3 linked regions of the Homo sapiens genome follow. The protein of the gene in region 1 interacts with the protein of each later gene in a biochemical or structural test. Each region holds a gene or a part of one and is shown in the gene's direction. Other genes may lie near its edges. The genes, in order: LRP1, LPL and THBS1.

The links.
Region 2: the proteins of LRP1 (region 1) and LPL form a complex in vitro, tested with the Homo sapiens proteins (3 studies listed by BioGRID).
Region 3: the proteins of LRP1 (region 1) and THBS1 form a complex in vitro, tested with the Homo sapiens proteins (3 studies listed by BioGRID).

The regions. Positions count from the first base shown.
Region 1 is NC_000012.12:57,208,445-57,212,190, forward strand, and holds part of LRP1 (prolow-density lipoprotein receptor-related protein 1 preproprotein), read left to right. Parts: intron 1-266; coding exon 267-373; intron 374-638; coding exon 639-755; intron 756-1,247; coding exon 1,248-1,424; intron 1,425-1,584; coding exon 1,585-1,725; intron 1,726-1,862; coding exon 1,863-2,036; intron 2,037-2,273; coding exon 2,274-2,435; intron 2,436-2,731; coding exon 2,732-2,906; intron 2,907-3,042; coding exon 3,043-3,144; intron 3,145-3,305; coding exon 3,306-3,370; intron 3,371-3,482; coding exon 3,483-3,573; intron 3,574-3,672; coding exon 3,673-3,746. UniProt on the Homo sapiens protein: Endocytic receptor involved in endocytosis and in phagocytosis of apoptotic cells. Required for early embryonic development. Involved in cellular lipid homeostasis.
Region 2 is NC_000008.11:19,949,159-19,952,904, forward strand, and holds part of LPL (lipoprotein lipase precursor), read left to right. Parts: intron 1-2,610; coding exon 2,611-2,790; intron 2,791-3,746. UniProt on the Homo sapiens protein: Key enzyme in triglyceride metabolism.
Region 3 is NC_000015.10:39,578,960-39,582,705, forward strand, and holds the start of THBS1 (thrombospondin-1 precursor), read left to right. Parts: upstream 1-2,119; 5' UTR 2,120-2,269; intron 2,270-2,748; exon of another isoform or gene 2,749-2,869; 5' UTR 2,870-2,898; coding exon 2,899-2,965; intron 2,966-3,233; coding exon 3,234-3,746. Other genes in the region: uncharacterized protein LOC124903470, read left to right, coding at 1,359-1,793. UniProt on the Homo sapiens protein: Adhesive glycoprotein that mediates cell-to-cell and cell-to-matrix interactions.

The DNA.
Region 1 (3,746 bases):
GCCGGCTGTCATGCACAGCCACACTCTGCCCTGGGGAACAGCTCTGCCAGCGTCGGTGGCTCTGAATGAGCACACTGTGGTTTTAGAGGAAAAGCCCCTCAACCTGCTCAGAAGCAGACTCCCGCCTGCTTCTCTGTAGAAGGACAGAATGCCCTCCTCCCAGTCCCCAGCAGTCCCTGTCCCCAGACCAAGAAGCTGGTGTCCTGCCTGGGCCTGCCTCCTCTGGCCCTCCGGCCTGCCCACACTCACCCCTTCTCCCTCCCCAGGACCATGTACTGGTCAGACTGGGGCAACCACCCCAAGATTGAGACGGCAGCGATGGATGGGACGCTTCGGGAGACACTGGTGCAGGACAACATTCAGTGGCCCACAGGTTTGTGGGGCAGGGTGCAGGAGGGACGGGCATGGAGGGGGCCCGGCTCGCAGAGCCCAGCTGCTGCTGAAGTCACACAAAAGCAAGGGATGGGATGGGGCTTGGACTGGGGCAGGGCAGATTGGCCGTGGAGGCTTTTCCCGAAAGAGGTGACTGTGAGTGGCGTATGAACAGGGTGGAGCTGTCCCGGGCATGGAGGCAGTTCTTTCCACCCCGAGCCTGGGTTGGGGAGGCCAAGCTCTCACAGTGCTCTCTCTCTCCCCAGGCCTGGCCGTGGATTATCACAATGAGCGGCTGTACTGGGCAGACGCCAAGCTTTCAGTCATCGGCAGCATCCGGCTCAATGGCACGGACCCCATTGTGGCTGCTGACAGCAAACGAGGTCAGAGCCCGGCATAAGTCGCAGTCCCCAGCCCTGTCCCCAGCCTTGCCATCCTCCCTACTGAGCCAAAGGCCTCACTTCAATGCCTCCCATCCTTTGTCACTGACCCCCAGCAATGCTGCAGCGCCTTCCAGGCCTCTCCAGCTGGCCTCCCCCTGAACCAGCCCTGCAGGCCTGAGACCCACCCTGACCCTCTGGCCTACTTGTCCATTCATTGGTTGGGTTGCACGGAGGCAGCATAGGTACATTAGGAACGTAGCAAATTGGGGGAGAAGGAATAGAAGTCAGTCATGACTGACCCCAGAAGTCTGGGGGTGATGGGACCTTTTGCCAGTAGTGGCCACAGGAGGAGGAACCGGTGTGGGGAGAGAGAATTTGGTCTGGATGTGTTGAGTTTGAGGTGTCTGGGAACCACAGGTGCCAGTGTCGTGGACAGCATGGCCAGGGCCTGAGTGCCCCTCAGGTCCCCTCTGACTCCACCTCCTCCCCCAGGCCTAAGTCACCCCTTCAGCATCGACGTCTTTGAGGATTACATCTATGGTGTCACCTACATCAATAATCGTGTCTTCAAGATCCATAAGTTTGGCCACAGCCCCTTGGTCAACCTGACAGGGGGCCTGAGCCACGCCTCTGACGTGGTCCTTTACCATCAGCACAAGCAGCCCGAAGGTGGGGGCAGAGGGGAGCCTGGGCTGGGGAAGGGAGGCCTGTGGGCATTGAGTCTCCAAGCTGTGGCCCTGGGACCTGGTGGAGAGGGGGTCACCCTGGGCTCACAGGGCTCAGAGAAGGGTCCTGCTCAGCATCCTCCCCACCCCACCCATACCTGCAGTGACCAACCCATGTGACCGCAAGAAATGCGAGTGGCTCTGCCTGCTGAGCCCCAGTGGGCCTGTCTGCACCTGTCCCAATGGGAAGCGGCTGGACAACGGCACATGCGTGCCTGTGCCCTCTCCAACGCCCCCCCCAGATGGTATGCTTATGCCCTCCCAGTCCCAGCCATGCCTCAGGACCATCTCCTTCCTGTGGCTCCTGACTTCCCCTGACCTTGTTGCCTGTCCCTCTCCTCCTATTCCCCTGGCTCTGCCCCTTGACGGGCCCTTCCTGCAGCTCCCCGGCCTGGAACCTGTAACCTGCAGTGCTTCAACGGTGGCAGCTGTTTCCTCAATGCACGGAGGCAGCCCAAGTGCCGCTGCCAACCCCGCTACACGGGTGACAAGTGTGAACTGGACCAGTGCTGGGAGCACTGTCGCAATGGGGGCACCTGTGCTGCCTCCCCCTCTGGTATGCCCCCTCATCCCGCCACGCCTGCTCCTTGCCCCTGGGCCCCAGCCCCGCCACCCACCACCCCACCTCAGGCAAATGCCCAGCCCCTGCCTCGCCTCCAGCCTCCTTTCCACAACCCAGCATCCAGTCACTCCAGTCTCTGCTTCTCGCCCAGGTCCCCCCAGCCCATTCCTCTGCTATAGGGCCAGGTGGTCTCGAGGGCCACAGTCGCGCTCACACATCCTCTCCCACCAGGCATGCCCACGTGCCGGTGCCCCACGGGCTTCACGGGCCCCAAATGCACCCAGCAGGTGTGTGCGGGCTACTGTGCCAACAACAGCACCTGCACTGTCAACCAGGGCAACCAGCCCCAGTGCCGATGCCTACCCGGCTTCCTGGGCGACCGCTGCCAGTACCGTGAGTGAGCCATCCCTGGGCCCCAGGGCATGCGGGAGGGTGACGGGGGACCCCAGAGCATGGGGTGATGTTCAACCTGTGCCTGGGACCCACAGGGGCAAGTTCAGGAAAGAAGGCCTTATGCAGCTGAGCCAGGCCCAAGCTGCTGGCGCTTCCCCACAAAGGTGCTGGCACACTTCCCCTGAGGCAGTGCACCCCCTGCACCAAGATTATGCAAACAGAAAAGCTCTGTTCAACCTATGGAGAGCCCTCATGAGGGTGGGGCTTGAGGCACTTCTCTCCCTCCCCAACCACAGGGCAGTGCTCTGGCTACTGTGAGAACTTTGGCACATGCCAGATGGCTGCTGATGGCTCCCGACAATGCCGCTGCACTGCCTACTTTGAGGGATCGAGGTGTGAGGTGAACAAGTGCAGCCGCTGTCTCGAAGGGGCCTGTGTGGTCAACAAGCAGAGTGGGGATGTCACCTGCAAGTGAGTGGGGCCCTCCTCCACAGTTCCACCCAGCTGGGCCCCTGCCCTGTCCTAGCCCTGCCCTGCCCCTCCCTTCCTCAGCATCCCAGGCACGCCTCTGCCAGCCCCAGCCCCAGCCTCTGATTCCTTCCTGCAGCTGCACGGATGGCCGGGTGGCCCCCAGCTGTCTGACCTGCGTCGGCCACTGCAGCAATGGCGGCTCCTGTACCATGAACAGCAAAATGATGCCTGAGTGCCAGTGAGTTGGGCCCGGGCTTCACCCAGGCATAGATCATCGCTCCCTTCCCCAGATTTGAGCAGGAGGACCGTCAGGCCTCAGTGCCCACCCCCCGCCCTGTTTTCCTGGCAGCAGTGGCTATGGAGGTTATACCTACTCAGCCGTGTCCCTCCTTTCTGCAGGTGCCCACCCCACATGACAGGGCCCCGGTGTGAGGAGCACGTCTTCAGCCAGCAGCAGCCAGGACGTAGGTGGCAGGGGTTGGGGCAGGCAGGGCCACCGGGACCTAGAGCAGGGGGACCGTGTGCCTCCTGCTTCCCTGAGCCTTGGTGACTCAGTGTCCCACCTCTTCCCTCCAGATATAGCCTCCATCCTAATCCCTCTGCTGTTGCTGCTGCTGCTGGTTCTGGTGGCCGGAGTGGTATTCTGGTATAAGCGGCGAGTCCAAGGGTGAGTCACAGGGATTCTGGAACATTCTGGTCATTATTTTGCCATCCTAGCCTTCCCCCCCAATAATCTCTGTCTCCTTATACTCCTGCCTTTCCCCAGGGCTAAGGGCTTCCAGCACCAACGGATGACCAACGGGGCCATGAACGTGGAGATTGGAAACCCCACCTACAAGA
Region 2 (3,746 bases), on another chromosome or scaffold:
GCTTGTTAAAGATATATTATCTATCCATTATGTCAGAGCTTGTGAATATTATAATACTAATTTCTAGTGAGAACTAACTAAAAATAACATTCATCTAGTCCACATTTCTTTTCCTACATAATTTAAGTGGCTTTGTTATTGACTGAAGAGGACAATCGCTACAATTTTTATAGAGATGAGACTACTACTAACAGAATTCACACAGATGTTTAACAAAATATAGCCATTTACTATGTTAACATAGTAAATTCAATATTTTGTGATAAAATCTCAAATTCCTAAACATAAATCCTTTAATATTTTAATAGGTGTAAGTAGGAAAAAGGAATCTTTTTCTTTTTTGAGATGGAGGCTCACTCTATTGCCCAGGCTGGAGTGCAGTGGCGCGATCTCGGCTCACTGCAACCTCCGCCACCTGGGCATAAGAGATTCTCCTGCCTCAGCCTCCCGAGTAGCTGGGACTACAGGCGCCCACCACCACACCCGGCCAATTTTTATATTTTCAGCACAGGCAGGGTTTCACCCTGTTGGCCAGGCTGGTCTCGAACTCCTGACCTCAAGTGATCTACCCACCTTGGCCTCCCAAAGTGTTGGGATGACAGGCGAGAGCCACTGCATCTGGCCCAGAAAAAGGAATCTTTAGAGGCCCTTTGGTTATATACAGAACTTGGATTTTAAAATTTTTCAAAAAATCTGAGCTTAATAAACGCATTTATACAACAGAAATAAATTGAGTATCTCAGTCATCTCAATCTTATCCCTGAGAGAATTTTATACTTTGGGAAGTTGTGGGAAAAAAATGGTTCTTTTTCATACTAAGATGACATGACCAACCCAATATCAACAGACGGTGCCACTTCCTATCATTGGTCCTACTGCCTCACTAAGCCCACCTGTATCTTTCACATCATGTGTCCTGACATTTTGAGTGCTTGAGCACAGAGACTGCTGTCTGGCTGTGGGACTGAGTTGGGTCTGTGCAAGAACTAAGCCAGCCACACTGATCTTGATTATCTCAGTGAACTCACTGGCAGGGTCAGGTGGCCCACCTGGTATAGGCAGCAGGGAGGGCTTCAGTTCAGCTGCGTGTCTGAAAACCAAAGATTTAAAACATAGTAATTATTGAACCTCAGAAGAAAAACTCAGATTGAAAGAACTTAGAATAAGACCCTTTTTGAGTTGAGAAAGGTGAGTACTTAGATTTTTCATTTGCTTTGTTTGGGATTACTTACATCAGTATTTTATGTTGATCAGAAAGAAAGGATTCAATTAGCTATTGTTCGGTTAATAAAAATGTCAGCCACTGTAGGAGTAAGTTGGATGTCCAGCCTTTTTAGATTGCTTAACTTGGAAACACTGGGCTGGGAGCGGTGGCTCATGCCTGTGATCCCAGCACTCTGGGAGGCCAAGGCAGGCAGATCACTGGAGGTCAGGAGTTTGAGACCAACCTGGCCAACATGGGGAAACCCAATCTCTACTAAAAAAATACAAAAAAATTAGCCAGGTGTGGTGGTATGTGCTTGTAGTCCCAGCTACTCAGGAGGCTGAGGCAGGAGAATCGCTTGAACCAAGGAGGCGGAGGTTGCACTGAGCTGAGATCATGCCACTGCACTCCAGCCTGGGCGAGACAGTAAGACTCTGCCAAAAGAAAGGAAAGAAAGGAGGGAAAGAAAGGAAGGAATGAAAGGAAGGAAGGGAAGGAGGAAGGGAAGGAGGGAGGGAGGAAGGAAGGAAGGAATGAAGGAAGGAAGGAAGGAATGAAGGAAGGAAGGAAGGGAGGGAGGAAGAAAGGAAGGAAGAACAAAGAAAAGAGAAACACTGGTAGTACAGAAAAACTTCTGATAGAGGCCTAGAGTAAACCCGATTTTCTTGCCTTATCTGAAATAAGCTGCCTGGGGACTCACAGGCACAGACGAAGGGAAATGAGGAGGCTCTCCAGCTGTGTCATGAGACACCCAAAGGAATGCTTAGCATGTAGCATGCATGTGATACATCCCAGCAGGTTGCTTAGACACAGCTATCTTGGAGCTTTGCCACTTGCTTGGATGTCACTGGCTTTAAGTACAGGGTTCCCATTGTGAAGTAGGGGATCCTGGCTGAAACAGGGAGACATTAACATTACATTCTGAAGAAATGACATCAACCTCTCCTGATCTTGAAAGCCAACTACAAAGGGTGCCCAACACCCCAACCTTGAAGGGAGGCGAAGGTGAGTGGGACTGGACCAATTCAACAGGGTTCTGCTCCTAGCCAGGTGCTCCTGCTAGTTTCCTCAAAGACCCACTTTGCATTCAGACCAATCTTTCCTTTTAATAGTATAAATGATCAAAATTTTATTGAATGTCTAAAATATACTTTTTAAATGGGAAGCATGGTGAACCCCAATCTGCCGTTCCTCAACTCAACTCAATGCCTTCCTGGCTTACTTAGATCTGCCTTGGAAGGGACAGACCTGTCTCTGAACACTGTTCTGTTATTTGATTTTTCTATCTGTGCCAATGGGTTTCCAATCAAGTTTGTTTTTTCCATTTCATGCAGGTGTATTGGGCTGATGTATCTATGACAAGTGGTAGGTGGGTATTTTAAGAAAGCTTGTGTCATCATCTTCAGGTAACAGGAATGTATGAGAGTTGGGTGCCAAAACTTGTGGCCGCCCTGTACAAGAGAGAACCAGACTCCAATGTCATTGTGGTGGACTGGCTGTCACGGGCTCAGGAGCATTACCCAGTGTCCGCGGGCTACACCAAACTGGTGGGACAGGATGTGGCCCGGTTTATCAACTGGATGGAGGTAAGACTGGGAGAAGGAGACTTATGTGTCCAAAACAGTGTTTTTGACTGGAGCCAGAAAACCGGCTGTTCTTTCTTCCTTTTCTCTTAGATTTAAATATTTTCTGGGGGCATTCAAATCTTCAGAATCAGCGTGGATATTATTTTATATCCAAAAGCAACATTTTGATAAGAATAGACTATAAGGCCAATAAATAGTCCTGCCCTGCTCTATCGTTTGATATTTTCACAGTGAATAGATCTGCTGAGACCAATAACTAAGTGGGCCCAACAGAAAAAAGCTTGTGATTTTCGGACAGAGGAAAGATGGCATGTTCAGCCAGACCCTTCCCTACCAGTTGGCTGGCCTGTGGACATCTTATCCTCACCTTGACATACCAATCTCTTTCATGAAAATATTAATAGTACTTATTCTTTAGTGTGAAATAGGATGAACGTTTTTGTTGAGCATTGGGAGAGTGATGGAATTGAGCTAGGAAGATGTTGGAAGGGAAGGTGCATAGGATAGAAGGGAACTGAGGTCTGGAGTTCTGACTTAGCTGCAAGAGACCCACTTTTTCACACGATCCCTTGAGAAGTACCTCTGAAAAGTATCTTGGGGTTGGAAAGAAGCTGATACTCTGACCAAGGCAAATTATTTTAACCAGGTAATTGGAAGTAAAAAATAAGCTGTGTTTATTAGACTGATCATAAAAGACAAAAGTTCTTTTCTTGTCTTTTTTGCTGACCAGGCAAATGAACATGGGCAAACGGGATCACCTCCCTGGGGCTCAGGCTTCTCACCTGTTAAATGAGGGGCTGGACCATGTACCTCTGGTCCCTTCCACTGAATGTTTCCTGAGTCTGTCATTGCTTGGCTAACCTTCAATGATAAAGTGATACAGATATTTAGAGTAAGGAATAATGGGAAAATATATACCCATATACTATACATTCAAACATACACACATATACATA
Region 3 (3,746 bases), on another chromosome or scaffold:
ATAGGTCACCTTCTTATTGGTAAAGCATGATGAAGTTTGGAAACTGTTGTCCTTGTTTTGTTGAAAGAAGCCAAGTTCCAAGAAATCTGCAGAGGCATTCCTACAATCCCTCAGCCATGGCAGCATGAATCCTGAAGGGGCAGTGAGTGCTGGTTTCTACTCTGTCTGCACAGCTAAGCCTAGGGGAGATAATCTTTTCATACAAGATGCATTCTGCTTTTGTGGGCCTCTTGCAGCCCTCAAGCCCCCATCTGATTTGTACACAATGATCCAGTGGGCCAGAGGAGCCCAGAGCCATGAGCGGCCCATCCCTCCAAGAACTATTTCTGACTGTCCAGTATCATGGAGCAAGTGGAAAGAAGAAAAAAAAAACCCAATTACTTTTCGAAGAGCAAGATGAATGCTGTAGAAGGAGAAGGAAGGGGAGGGAGATGGATGGGTGCCGATTCCAGAATCTTCAGATCTGCTTGGATGAATCATTACCTATGATTTGCGGGACAAGAATCTGATTTTATTCATCAACCAGTAGAAACTTTTCTTTCTGCCTCCCAACATCTGAAATCCAACAAACATGTGCCTTAGGAACATACCGGTCATCTTTTAGAGGCATTTTATATACATATTGAGTAACTAGAAAACACTCTTTCCGTAATACACACACACACACACACACACACACACCATCTTGTCATACAACACTCCCACGCAAGAAAAGCGAAACTGCTGTTTGATGAATGTAAACACTTGGCTGTTTGCAGCAGTCGGGAGTCCTGCCAGGTTTAAGTGCTAAGATGGGAGGTGAACCCCAGGGGTTTCCCCCTGCCCGTGCTGAGATCCTTATTTGGTCAAGCTTCTACCTATGCCCTGGCCTCGGAGCGAGCCCGATAGCGCTGGATCACAGCAGAGGGAGCGAGGCGGCTGACGTCCCATCCCGAAGAGATGAATGGAATTCCAGGAAGCTAGAGTCATGCTGGCTTGGGACAGTGGCTTGGAGACCAGACTTCAATGACAGAAGCACTAGGCAGCGGCACTCATGGCAATGTGTGCACCCACAGAAATGTAACCCACACCTCGGGTTCAGGAGCCGAAAAATGAAAAGAACGTTTAGGGAGGAAAAAGGGAAATACAATAATAGGCAGAGAGTAATTTATTACTCTATGGGTCTGCTCTGTAAATAGCTGAAGACTCTGGAGCCAGATGGTTCTGCAAATTCTCCAAACAGGAGTCACGTTAAGAAGCACGAGTGGGCACAAAAACTGTTTTTCAAGACACAATTTCAATTTGGCTTGTGGAAACTGGATACGAGTAAGTTTCCTTAAAATTCGAGTAGAAAGCAGCTGTCCTCCCCGGGCCCCTTGATGAGAATACGCACACCGCCCCCAAGCGGCCGGCCGAGGGAGCGCCGCGGCAGCGGGAGAGGCGTCTCTGTGGGCCCCCTGGCAGCCGCGGCAGGAAAGGGCCCGAAGGCAGCGAAGGCGAACGCGGCGCACCAACCTGCCGGCCCCGCCGACGCCGCGCTCACCTCCCTCCGGGGCGGGCGTGGGGCCAGCTCAGGACAGGCGCTCGGGGGACGCGTGTCCTCACCCCACGGGGACGGTGGAGGAGAGTCAGCGAGGGCCCGAGGGGCAGGTACTTTAACGAATGGCTCTCTTGGTGTCCCCTGCGCCCCGTCGGCCCATTTTTCTTTTTACAAAACGGGCCCAGTCTCTAGTATCCACCTCTCGCCATCAACCAGGCATTCCGGGAGATCAGCTCGCCCGAAAGCCCCTGCGCCACCCCGCGGGCCCTCCTAGGTGGTCTCCCCAGCCCCGTCCCTTTTCGGGATGCTTGCTGATCACCCCGAGCCCGCGTGGCGCAAGAGTACGAGCGCCGAGCCCGTGCGCGCCAAGGCTGCGTGGGCGGGCACCGACTTTTCTGAGAAGTTCTAGTGCTCCCAAGCCCCGACCCCCGCCCCCTTCACTTTCTAGCTGGAAAGTTGCGCGCCAGGCAGCGGGGGGCGGAGAGAGGAGCCCAGACTGGCCCCCACCTCCCGCTTCCTGCCCGGCCGCCGCCCATTGGCCGGAGGAATCCCCAGGAATGCGAGCGCCCCTTTAAAAGCGCGCGGCTCCTCCGCCTTGCCAGCCGCTGCGCCCGAGCTGGCCTGCGAGTTCAGGGCTCCTGTCGCTCTCCAGGAGCAACCTCTACTCCGGACGCACAGGCATTCCCCGCGCCCCTCCAGCCCTCGCCGCCCTCGCCACCGCTCCCGGCCGCCGCGCTCCGGTACACACAGGTAAGTCGCCCCCGGCGGCCGCCGAGGACCAAAGCTGCCCGGGACATCCACCTGGAGCGCTGAGGCTTCAGTCCCTCTGGTGGACCCCGGAACCTACACTCTCCCCGCTCGCCTACCCCAGCCCGCTCCTCTCAGCCGCTGGAGGACTCTTCAGGGCAAGGCTCCAGAGCCATCCTCTCCAGCCTTGAGGTTCACAAACCAACTCATCAGGACACCCCAAGATTTCCTTACTCTCTGAAGTCCTCCTTAAGCCTTTGTATCAGCACTCCAGGGAAGAGTCTGTACTTCCCCTGCCCTCCCTGCAACCCCAAACTACAGTTCCTGATCTTGCTCACCTTCGACTTCCCAAAAGCCCCCAAATTGTTGGTCTTGCGCCCCCCACACTTTAAAACCAGCATCTCTTTCCTCCACCTCTCTCTCTCTCTCTCTCTCTCTCTCTCATGCTCTCTGGAAAGTAATCCTGTTGTCCTTCATTTCAGCAAACGCGGGGTCAAAGAGGGATGGTCCCGGCCCTGTCCCCATGCCCAGCCCCGTTTCTGCGCACCGTCCCTCCCTGCCTAGCTGATCTCTGACCCTCGGCTCTTGTGCTTCCTGCTACAGGATCCCTGCTGGGCACCAACAGCTCCACCATGGGGCTGGCCTGGGGACTAGGCGTCCTGTTCCTGATGCATGTGTGTGGCACCAACCGCATTCCAGGTGAGTTTGTGTGGCACCTTTAGGGGAAGGAGGGACAAGGAAGAGGTGCTGGCTATCCCAGGTGTGCCCCCTCACGTGCTGTCCTCTCCCTCTTGAGCCTGACTGGACATCAGGACGCAGCTTCACTCTGATCCTGGTATTTATTCACCTCTTTCAGTGGTTGCCAGGAGTTTTCACCCCAACCCTTTGTCTCCACCCCTAAGGACTCAGCCCCCTACTGCTGGTCCCAGCCTAGAAAGCTCACTTTGTGTTCTCTCCTGTCTAACAGAGTCTGGCGGAGACAACAGCGTGTTTGACATCTTTGAACTCACCGGGGCCGCCCGCAAGGGGTCTGGGCGCCGACTGGTGAAGGGCCCCGACCCTTCCAGCCCAGCTTTCCGCATCGAGGATGCCAACCTGATCCCCCCTGTGCCTGATGACAAGTTCCAAGACCTGGTGGATGCTGTGCGGGCAGAAAAGGGTTTCCTCCTTCTGGCATCCCTGAGGCAGATGAAGAAGACCCGGGGCACGCTGCTGGCCCTGGAGCGGAAAGACCACTCTGGCCAGGTCTTCAGCGTGGTGTCCAATGGCAAGGCGGGCACCCTGGACCTCAGCCTGACCGTCCAAGGAAAGCAGCACGTGGTGTCTGTGGAAGAAGCTCTCCTGGCAACCGGCCAGTGGAAGAGCATCACCCTGTTTGTGCAGGAAGACAGGGCCCAGCTGTACATCGACTGTGAAAAGATGGAGAATGCTGAGTTGGACGTCCCCATCCAAAGCGTCTTCACCAGAGACCTGGCCAGCA